Homo sapiens: one gene and its partners. The protein of the gene in region 3 purifies or fractionates together with the protein of the main gene of each other region. This does not show direct contact. Each region holds a gene or a part of one and is shown on either strand. Other genes may lie near its edges. The genes, in order: SLC35F2, SLC19A2 and KDSR.

Region 1 (3,750 bases), on a different chromosome or scaffold from region 3:
GGAGAGAGGGAGACCGGAGCACAGAGAAGTGACTTGTCCAGGAAGGAAGGAAGGAAGGCAGGAAGGAAGGAAGGGAGGGAGGGAAGGAAGGAAGGGAGGGAGGGAGGGAGGGAAAAGAGGGAAGGAGACTGGAGCACAGAGAAGTTAAGTGACTTGTCCAAGAAGGAAGGGAGGGAGGGAGACTGAAGCACAGAGAAGTGACTTGTCCAGGAAGGAAGGAAGGCAGGAAGGAAGGGAGGGGCGGAGGGAGGGAACTGGAGCACAGAGAACTGATTTGTCCAAGGTCACCCAGCAGAAGGAAGGGAGGAAGGAAGGGAGGAAGGAAGGGAGGGAGGGAGACTGGAGCACAGAGAAGTTAAGTGACTTGTCCAAGACGGACGGACACGGACGGAAGGAAGGAACAAAGAAGGAGGGAGGGAGGGAGGGAGGGAACTGGAGTACAGATAACTGACTTGTGGAAGGAAGGACGGAAGGAAGGAGAGAGGGAACGAAGGAAGGAGAGAGGGAAGGAAGGAAGGAAGGAGAGAGAGGGAAGGAAGGAAGGAGAGAGGGAGAGAGGGAGGGAAGGGAGGGAACTGGAGCACAGAGAACTGACTTGTCCAAGGTCACCCAGCCAGGATTTGAGTCCAGAATGTGAGTGCCCTTAGCCATTACACTGAATTGCCTCCCAGCTGAGAACTTTTAACAAATGTATCAGGACATACACAACTGGATGCTACAAGGTGGTTTTCGGCCAACTTTCCCCTTTAAACACATGCATCAATTTCAAACTATTTATATGATAAAAAATGCTTACACCTTTATCGATCTCGTTTTTAAAATGGTATGGCTTTTCAGGACTATCTTTCACAATCGTTAAAGGGAAATTCGCTTTGTTAATATGAAAAAAAAATCAAATATCTGTTTCATGAGTTGTCAGTGGCCAACGCTGTTTAGACTACGGCTTGAACGCATCACCCCTTAAAGATCATCTTGTGGCCTTGGGCAAATTGCTTAGCCTTCTTTGTTTCTCCAGCGGCAAAGTGGATATAACAATAGTACCATCTCCTAAAGTGGTGAGGATTAGCTGATATTATCCATATAAATTGTTATGCACAGTACCTGACACAGAGCGAGTGCCCAATAAATGTCTTTCACTATTTAGGTCCTGGGTTCTCTCATTTCCAGAGTGCAAGTCCTCCAGCAACCACAGAAACGCTTTCTAGAGTCGCTGCCCACTCCTTAAAAACATTTGTCCCTACTTCGCACAGAGCATAGTGATACCACAAACAGGCTTCCCTGGACCCCAGCCCTGGGGGTGGCTATATCACCTCGCTCAGGCCCAGGAAGAGAGAGCCGGCTCTGGTCTCCCACCCGGCAGCAGCACAAAACTTAACCAGGATTTCTCACTTCGGTCAACTCTTGAATCACCGCGCCCAGTCTGGCTGGCTCGGCAGCAGATGGAATGAGGGCGCCGGCGCCAGGAAGTGGCGCTCACCCACCTGCCCAGCCCGAGGTGGGCACTCCTCCTTCACAGCATCCCCGGGGACCTCGTCCCTCCACCGCGGAACGCCCCAGAGGACCGACCTAATAGTGCCACAGGGTGGGTTTCCCCCCAAATCCTCCAAAATACATCGCCACGATTTCGAAACGGGAGCCGAGGGAGACGCACCAAGTGCTTCCCGACGCCAGGTGAAGCGCACCATACCTGGTGTGCGTGTTGAGCCCCGAACCGAAGTCCGTGCGGCCGCCACCTCTGCCTCCCTGCTGGGGGCCTCAGAGAGTGTGCTCCTTGTCCACGTGCGCGCAGGGCCCGCAGCCGCCCCCACGCCCCAGCGGAGCTGCAGCACGCCCCTTCCACTCACCAGGTGAAGAGTTTGCCTTTTATCCTGCGCAGCAGGCTGGAGAACTCGGCCGCCGCTCCCTCCGCGAGGGGCTCTGGGGCGCCGGGGCCCGCTGGCGAGTCTGCCTCCATCGGCGCCCTTGCGCGTCTCCGGCGCCCAAAACCCCCGAAGTGCCGGGTCCCGGAAGACGGGAGGCGGTGCCTGTGCGGCCGGCTGGGGCTCCGCTCTGGCCCTGCGCTCCCTCCCTCGCTCGCTTGCTCGCGTCCCTCTCGCTCCTCCGCTCGGCTCCTTCAGCGACCAATCATTAACTGTCAAGCCCTAAGGGCCAGACAATACATTTGCAGATTACAACCTGGCACCTCCAGGGTGGCAGGAGGAGAAAGGGCAATTTTTTTTTCGTCTTGGCAGCCGAGCCTTATTGTTGAGCGGCACCCAGTGTGCCTTCAGGTTTTTAGGGTTCCTTGTTTGAAATCACAAGATACAGTGACACGAGGTTATTGTAGGTGATTCCTAAGCTAAGAAGCGGTGAGTGAGCAGTGAGTTAGAAGCAGTGAGTGAGCCGGGACTCTCCTAACTGGAAGGACTGGCTGACCCCTCCTCTTCCCTCCCACTCTCCCTCCCTCTGGCTGATTTGTACAAAATCGCTTCATTAAAATAACTGAAGGCTGGCAGGGCGCGTTGGCTCACACCTGTAATCCCAACGCTTTGGGAGGCCGAGACGGGTGGATCACCTGAGGTCAGGAGTTCGAGACCAGACTGGGAAATATGGTGAAACCCCGTCTCTACTAAAAATACAAAAATTAGCCGGGCGTGGTGACGGGTGCCTGTAGTCCCAGCTACTCGAGAGGCTGAGGCAGGAGAATCGCTTGAACCCAGGAGGCGGCGGTTGTGAGCCAAGATCGCGCCTTTGCACTCCAGCCTGGGCAACAGAGGGAGACGTCGTCTTAAAAAAAAAAAAAAAAAAAAAAAAAACCTGAAGGCGCTTCAGGTCTGTGTCGCTTTTCCCTGCAAAACATGGGTAAGATCCTAAAAAGATCTTGGAAACGTGCCTTTGTGGCGTGGATGGAGGCGTGGCTCATTCCTCGCGGTGTGTTGGTTTTGTCTTTCAGTATTCAGTTGTCTCCGCCGTGCCAGGGAGAGAGACGGTGCCAACCCCCGGCGCTCGGCTTGGATGCCCTGCCCTGGCCACGCCTTCCGAGGCTTCCACGGGCTAAAGAGGGATTAAGAGACACTAAGCTGGGGTCGAAAAGTTCCTGTCACTGACCCCCTGCTTCCGGAAAGGAGGAGATCCAGAAAACAAAAGAAAAGGTGTTGGGACCTTTTATTTTTTCCTGGCCACCTGCTTTGGGGGTTGGGGTGGGTCAAAATAAACGTAGGTTCAAATAGACAGGCTGTGCAGACGAGCTGGCAATTCTGTAAGAGGAGTCTAAGAAAAAAAACAGCTTTCGAAAATGAAATATTACTTCAGGAACCCCAAGTTTAGCAGCTGCAGGAACCTCAAAAAAACCTTTGAAACTAAGAACGTGGTCATCCGTAGAGACTAATTAAGTATTATAATACAAGCATATTATGAAACAAGAGGACATTAGAAGCACATTTAAGATGTCACTTTTGTAAAGTAAACAACTCATTTAACCCTGCATATTGACAACGTTGAATTCTACCTGAGCCCTGTGCTCCTGGAAAGTAATGACAATTAAGAAACCTTCCTAGGCCGGGCGCGGTGGCTGACGCCTGTAATCCCAGTGCTTTGGGAGACCGAAGCGGGCGGATTACTCCTGAGGTCAGGAGTTCGAGACCAGCCTGACCAACATGGCGAAATCCCGTCTCTACTAAAACTACAAAAATTAGCCCGGCGTTTTGGTGTGTGCCTGTAATCCCAGCTACTTGGGAGGCTAAGGCAGGAGAACCACTTGAACCCGGGAGG
Region 2 (3,750 bases), on a different chromosome or scaffold from region 3:
TTTTCCTGGGACATGTTTGGAAATAAGCCTATTAACATTCCAGCTTTGTAGGTGGCCTCAGTCGGACTGAGCTCCATAAGCTTTGTAGGCTGGCTGATAATAAAGAACCATTATGAGTAAAGTCTTTCATTCTCTACTGAGAGTTAACTGAATTGTTTAAATGTGGCATCTAATGTCCTCATTGAAAATTACTCTCTTTTCTCTATCCCCGTTCTTCAGCTCTCAAATTACTACTTGAAATTTAGGTTATCATCCCAGAGAGCCTGGGTAGACTTGTAGAGCCTGGGCAACCCTCATCATGAAACTCACCTTGATTACCAGGGCACCTGTGAGCACTTTTTGTCAGAATGACCAAGGATTAAGTGGCAATGAAATGCTGATTTTTTTCATAGTTTGTTAGGTGATATTAGAGAGTCAACAGAGGGTTGATGGGGGAGGGAAGGAGGTGTGTAATCATTTCATAGATTTTATGAAGTGGAAAAAAAATAAAGACACTTCTTTATCTGTTTTGAATGTGTTACAGTGGCTTTAGCTAAAATTAACGTATATACAGATAATATGTGTATAAATATATATTTTAGATATTAACATATTGACCATAGTTCTAAAGATTTTTATAGACAGTTTCAAACTTTTTTGAATATAAGTAAGAAACATAGAAAACATTTTACATAGAAAACCTGTACATACATAGGTATGTATATATTTTATATATAACAGAAACAAGTTTTACAACAGTGTTTTATTCTGATACATTCTTTTATTTTTTTTAAATTCAGTTCACTGTCCTCTAAATCAATTTTATTGCCAACTTATGGGTGATGACCTATAGTTTTAAAAACTGTTCTAGATCAACTTGAAATACTTGTTTATAGATACACAGTGTGTCAGTATTTTATATACTGAAGAATTGTAGAATTTTAGAGTTAGAAATGACTCTAATCACAAGTCATAGAAAAAGCAGAGCATTTTAAAAAGAGATTAGATTTCATCAAGACTGTCCTTTTAGAGATAAGGATTAGGATCAGAGATTAGCAACTTATGCAGAATTGTACAAATATACTCTTGAACATAATTTAAAAGTGTGTATGAGATCCAGTTCTTTCTAAACCTTTCTCGGTGAAGTCTTTTAACTGGGGTAACAATGTCAGAACCATCATGTCAGTTACACTGTTTTCAGAATTAGGATTCAAGTCAGTTCCCTGATATCCTAGGCTCTGCTACTGATACCATAGCAGATGGGCAGTGCTGCTTGGTATTGGCACTGACTGGCCCTAAAATGCTGCTGTTTTTCTTTGGCAAGCATGAAGAAAATTCAGAATATGGATATTAGGGATCACAGAGCTATTTTAAGTTGACAAGACCTATAATTAAACCATAAATTATAATTGTGGTAATTATTGAAGAGTAGGTAGGTAGGTGGTTTTATCTTGATTTTTATAGAAAGAGAAAATGAAGTAAGAGGAGTCTAAGTGATAGCTCATTCTACAAGTTACCTTAGAGTATTTGTGAGTTATTTTTAAAGAGAGTCTATTGCATTGGGGCAAAGGGTGCTGATCTTGCAGAAAGAAGAACCAAAGCTGGTGACTTTCTTTTACAAGCAGAGCTGGATTCATTATGTAGTTGGCTGATTGGTGAAACTGATTTATTTTGAGTTCTTCATCTATTAGAAATGACATAAATTAAACCACTTCTTTAGCACAGGTTCTGACATGTAATTAATACCTAGTAAATGATTCTCTTAATATAGCCATGCTTTTATTTGTAGTTTGATATCTTTTACTACTAGTAAGTGTTCTTTCTGTGTCTGCATGTCTAAGGTCTCTAAACAATGACAACAGTGAAATTAATGCTTCCACTTTGGTATTAAATAATGTCATTTCTAGCAGCAGGGTGTAGTGAGTTACCACCTACCTCCCTCACCAAAACCCATAAAAATAAAAAACTACAATAAACCCTGAGAACCAAAATGAACGAAAATCTATTCGCTTCATTCATTGTGAGTTTTTAAGAAAGTGAAGTCCAAACCCTAGTTCTAATACTTGGGCAAGTTACTTAATTCTGTGAGATTTAGTTTCCTTATGTACATATCTACCTTATACAGTTATTTTGAGTATTTAAAGCTTTCAAATGAGTTTACATAGTAGGTTTCCAATAAATGGTAATTGCTATTATTACTATTATCATTATCATTACACGTGAATAATCCGGAACAGCTCTGTACTTTTATGGTAGATAGTCATGTATTTGTGAGGTTGTAAATAGAGCAATCTTTCCTTTTCTCTTTGAATTAATCACCCCTGGTCATCTTCATCATCATCATCATCACACCTCCTGTTTATTTTGACCTGGGTATCAGATACTGTGCTAAGAACTTTAGAGTCAGTATGTTATTTGATTCTTATTAAAACTCAATAATGTAGATATTTGCTCATTTTACAGAAGAGGAAACTAAATTTAGTTAACTGACTTGCGCAAAGGCACATAGGAAGTGGCACTTTAAAACTTTCCAACTCAGGCTGGGCATGGTGACTCACACCTGTAATCCCAGCACTTTGGGTGGGCAAGGCAGGCAGATCACTTGAGGTCAGGAGTTCGAGACGAGCCTTGCCAACATAGTGAAACACGATGTCTGCTAAAAAAAAAAAAAAAATACAAAAACTAGCTGGGCGTGGTGGTGCATGCCTGTAATCCCAGCTACTTGGGAGGCTGAGGCAGGAGAGTTGCTTTAACCCGGGAGGCAGAGGTTGCAGTGGGCTGAGATAGTGCCACTGTACTCTAGCCTGGGCAACAGAGACTCTGTCTCAAAAAAATAAATAAATAAATAAAATTTCCACCCATATCTAGTTGACTCAAAAACCACCACTACAGTAGAAACTTCCATTCCCTGATAGAGGGAAGTAATTGTTAAAGATTTTTAAATTTATAAAACAGCGTCAAAATCTTATGTTCAAATGAAATCTGAAACTAGATGCCCGTTATGATAAGTAAATAAAAATTGAGCCTTTCTGATTGAAACAGGAATGCAGGTCTGATAATTTTACATACTTGAGCCTGTTATTCATCCCACATGAAACTCTTAAAGCTCCATGGAACACAGTGAAGGCCACTTATTAAATTAGAGCATGCATGATTAACTATGAGCAGCTCAGAGTTTTGATGTAATAGAAATAAACCTTTGTTTGTAGATGTAATTTAACAAGAAACATAAAAGGTAATATGTCAAATGCTACTTTATAAAGTGTGATTCATATAAGCTTAACATTTGAAGCCTAGAAAACAGCATAGAAGGAAGCCTGCAGATTATAGCACGAGGTGCTGATTTTATAAACAGGACCTGCCATCTTTTCTTTTTGGCATGGCCAGATAATAGATTGAGTAGTTATTAACCTCTGTGTGTGGAATTCATTATTATGTAATAGATCTAAAGTTCTCAAATGCATTATACTGGGCATTATTTTATGTATGCCATGACTTTTTAAGCTATGCAATAAAAATAACACTAATTGAGCCCCTCTATAATAAATATATACATTATCTAGTGTAACTCTGTATAATCTTTTGTGGATAGGTTTTATTGTTATCATTTTCATTTTCTAGATGAGAAAAGTAAGGCTTTCTTATCAGTTTATGGTAGGATTTCTAATAGAAACTTGTGAATCCTTTTAATAGTTCCATTCTTCCAGGAATATACTTTCTTTTCTTATAATCCTTCCAGCATCCTTGAAAGTTTTAGATATCCCAGTTGTT
Region 3 (3,750 bases):
ATCAGCAGATTACTGTAAAAATATAGCTGTTGTTGGCCGGGCGCGATGGCTCGCGCCTGTAATCCCAGCACTTTCGGAGGCTGAGGTGGGTGATTTTCTGCTTTTTTCCTGCAATTTTACTACCGTAACTAGATAGAAAACACTAGTATATAAAATTGTTTTAAAAATGAAACAATTGTTATAAGTTTGTTCTTAATTATGTATGGGCAGACAGTTTAACCATCAGCTCCCTCTCCCAACAATACCACAGTCAACTCCTAACAAATCTCAAGAACAATTACACTTTTCACTCTTCTTATGACATTAAAAAAGAAGACAGATGGTGACACCATGTGAACTATTCATGTCATTCTCACATTACTTAGAGTGTGAAATAATAATCCTGCGTATTAAAGCGGGATGGTAAAAATAAATTCTTCTTGGTCCACCTGAACAGACACAGCATTTATTATCTCACCTATGACCTGCCGCGGGATGGGGCTGGAAGGACTGGAGTCAAGGCTCAGTGAAACTGTCTTACAAATAAGGAATTCCAATTTTCATTCTGCGTTTAGCTTTAGTTTTTGCAAAGTTATGCTCTATAAACTCAAGCTCTGAAAGGATCCAAGGTTTAAAGCCACGCTTTTGAGGCAGCAGTTCTCTTGCGGATGTAAAACTTTCAGAATTTAGAGTGTCAAGTTTTGCCTTTCTCTTATTTATTTTTTGTAATGAATCCACACTCTTTCCCCATTAGGAACAGGAGGTGTTGGAAAAAGCTAATAGCTTTACAAAGGAGAAATTAAACAGATACATTTTCTCATTCACAAACCCTTGTACAGATTTAAAGCATACTAAGAAAAACGACCATCTTATTTTATACCAGCTCAGCGGGGAGGCTCGGATCTCCGGTGCAGAGATAGGACAGGAAGAGGTGTGCGGCCAATTTTGTAACCAACCCTCCTTACTCCTAACTCCTCGCCTCACTGTGCCTCGGGTTTGGGAGATCCAAACGAGAATGCTCGTGAGAAAGCCACTGCAAACGGGAAAGTGCTGGGCGCAGGCAAGGAGGCATTCTCTCTGTTTAAGAAAGGTGCCACATTTGCAGAACAGGGATCGCTGAATATGCGAGCTTCCGCCAAGAAATAAATCACACCTATCCACCTCTCCTTCATTCCTCGCACACAAGCCTTGTCGTTTAGCTCATCCTTCCCACTAGAAAACAGCAAAGGATTGCATTGGAGCAGCAATCAGCAGATGCCACGCTGAGCTCAGAGACAAGCAGTGTAGACGGGACAGGCGTCCCAATACCGCTAAGCCACCACCGCCAGCCCGCTGGGTTCTGAGCAGTTTCCCCAGGTGAGTCACTTCCTGGAATCCTCTGGCAGCGGCTCTTCCCGTCACTCGCACAGGCCATCTTCCAGTTCCGAGCTGCCTCGGCGGGTCCCGGCGGCTGGGACCCCACTTCCCCGCTGTCTGCCCCCGCCCGGGGCCGCGCGCCGCACCCTGCACACCACCGACCGCTGTGTCCTTGGCAAAGTTTCTCAGCCTCTCTGTGCCTCAGTTGACTCATCGGAAAAACTGAGGACAAAACATCCACATCCCAGGGATGTTGCATGGATTCACGAGCAGCCACAGAACCCCTGGGGCCCCGGGAACCCTGCGGCCGGCGGGGTCCCCCGTCGCACGCTCTCCGGCCCTAGGAGGAGCCCGAGGCTGCGGAGGGCGGGTCCGCGAGGCCGGGTGCCGGGGCCGGGGGAAAAGCGCCGGGGTGGACGGCGGCAGGTGACCTTCCCCATTTGGCCATGCCTTCCTGGGGACCGCGGCCTGGAAAAAGGGACGTAGGCTACGCGGCCTCGGCGGCGGAAAGGCCGCGCGGGCCGGTAAGTCGGGGGGCAGCAACAGGAGGCCACTCACCACCACATGCGCCCCGGGCAGGGCGAGGGGCTTGGGGCTGATGAGCGGAGACACCATGTACAGCAGCAGCACGAAGGCCACGAGGAAGGCGGCAGCCAGCAGCAGCATCGCTCCGCGGGGCCAGGGGCCCGGAGCGGCCGGGCGGGGGCCGCCGGGCAAGGCGCGCAGGGCTGGGCTGCGGCGAGGCGAGAATCACGCGCGGCGGGCGGGCGCCTGGAGTGTTTGGGTTTGCGGGCCGGGGCGGGCCGCGGCGGAGGGGAAGAGGAGGAGCCGGCGCGCGCGCCACCCAGGCGGGGCGGTGCTTCCAGGGGGCGAGTAGGCCGCCACCGCCACCGCCACCGCCACCACTGCCAGAATCGCCTCTCGGGGGTCGCCGGGTGTCTCCCACTCCCCCGGCCTCGGGACGGGGCCCGCAGTCCGCAGCCTCTCCCGTGGAAACCGGGCCTCCCGTCCCTGTGCGTCGCGAGCGGGCTCCGGACAGCGCCAGATGCGAGCGCGCCGGGAAGGGCTGCGAAGACTCGCTCTTCGGGAGCTCGAATGGCTTCTTAGGACCCCGCAGGGCGGGTTTCCAGGCCTGCCACGGCCTCCAGTGTGGGCGTGACGAGCGCTCCTCCCTGGAGTTCAGCCCTCGGCTTGGGACTGCCCGCTGGGTTGCTCGGAGGCCCCGGAGCATCGGAAAGGGCGGCTGGAGGCTCCCGGAGCGGGCTCAGCCTGGGAGCCCAGCGACTACGCTCTGAAATCCCGGGCTCCATTCCATATTTTTTGGCGTTTTTAGAAGATGGTCACGGCCCACTTTCGCTTTTCAGAGGACCGGAAAGCCTTAACAGGGAGTTTTGAGGAATCACTAAGGTAATTCAATTTCATTGAGTTCAGAGTTCATCTTTACCAAGCAGGTTCAAAACAAATAAATAACGCAAACAACTCAGCTTTATTAAGGTCTCATTCACGTACTATACCATACAATTCCCGATTTAACGTGCGTAATAGGCCGGGCGAGGTAGCTCGCGCCTGTAATCCCCGACCTTTGGGAGGCTGAGGCGGGCGGATCTCTTCAGGTCTGGAGTTCGAGACCAGCCTGGCCATGATGGTGAAACCCCCGTCTCTACTAAAAATACAAAAAATCACCCGGGCATGGTGGCGTATGCTTGTAATCCCAGCTACCCTGGAGGCTGAGGCAGGAGAATCGCTTGAACCCGGGAGGCAGAGATTGCGGTGAGATCGCGCCACTGCACTCCAGCCTGGGTGACAGATCAAGACTCCGTCTCAAAAATAAATAAATAAATAAAGCTTATAATAAATTGTCTTTAATATAGTCACAGTTGTAGACCCATCACTACCATAAATTTTAGAACATTTTTGTCACAACCCCCCAAAATCCTATACTCATTGGCAGTCACGACCCATTTCCTCCCAAGCCCCGCCCAAGCCTAAGCAATCCCTCATGTTTCTGTCTCTATAATCTTGCCTATTCGGGATATTTCACATAAATGGAATCATATAATATGTAGCCTTTTTCATCCTATCTTTCACTTACTGTAATGTTTTCAAGGTTCATCCATGATATGAAGTACTACATGTTAATACTTCATTTATTTTTATTGCCAAATAATATCCCATTGTATGACTATACGACATTTTAATTTTCCATTCATCAATTGAGGAATATTTAGGTTGTTTCCACTTTTTGACTATTAGAATTATGCTAACTGTAAATATTCATTTACCGGTTTTTGTGTGGGCATTATGTTTCATTTCTCTTGGGTACATGCCTAGTAGGGGAGTTGCTACATCTTACGGCAACTCTATGTTTAACTATTTGAGGAATTGCCAGAAGTTTTCCAAAGTGAGTACAACATT

Evidence for each region.
Region 1: the proteins of KDSR (region 3) and SLC35F2 purify together in Homo sapiens (affinity purification with mass spectrometry; 2 studies listed by BioGRID and IntAct, with this or other methods). This does not show direct contact.
Region 2: the proteins of KDSR (region 3) and SLC19A2 purify together in Homo sapiens (affinity purification with mass spectrometry; 2 studies listed by BioGRID and IntAct, with this or other methods). This does not show direct contact.

What each region holds. Positions count from the first base shown.
Region 1 is NC_000011.10:107,856,814-107,860,563, forward strand, and holds the start of SLC35F2 (solute carrier family 35 member F2), read right to left. Parts: upstream 1,975-3,750; 5' UTR 1,955-1,974; coding exon 1,845-1,954; intron 1,767-1,844; exon of another isoform or gene 1,688-1,766; intron 1-1,687.
Region 2 is NC_000001.11:169,472,313-169,476,062, reverse strand, and holds part of SLC19A2 (thiamine transporter 1), read left to right. Parts: intron 1-3,750. UniProt on the Homo sapiens protein: High-affinity transporter for the intake of thiamine. Mediates H(+)-dependent pyridoxine transport.
Region 3 is NC_000018.10:63,365,118-63,368,867, forward strand, and holds the start of KDSR (3-ketodihydrosphingosine reductase), read right to left. Parts: upstream 2,090-3,750; 5' UTR 2,002-2,089; coding exon 1,894-2,001; intron 1,884-1,893; exon of another isoform or gene 1,133-1,883; intron 13-1,132; exon of another isoform or gene 1-12.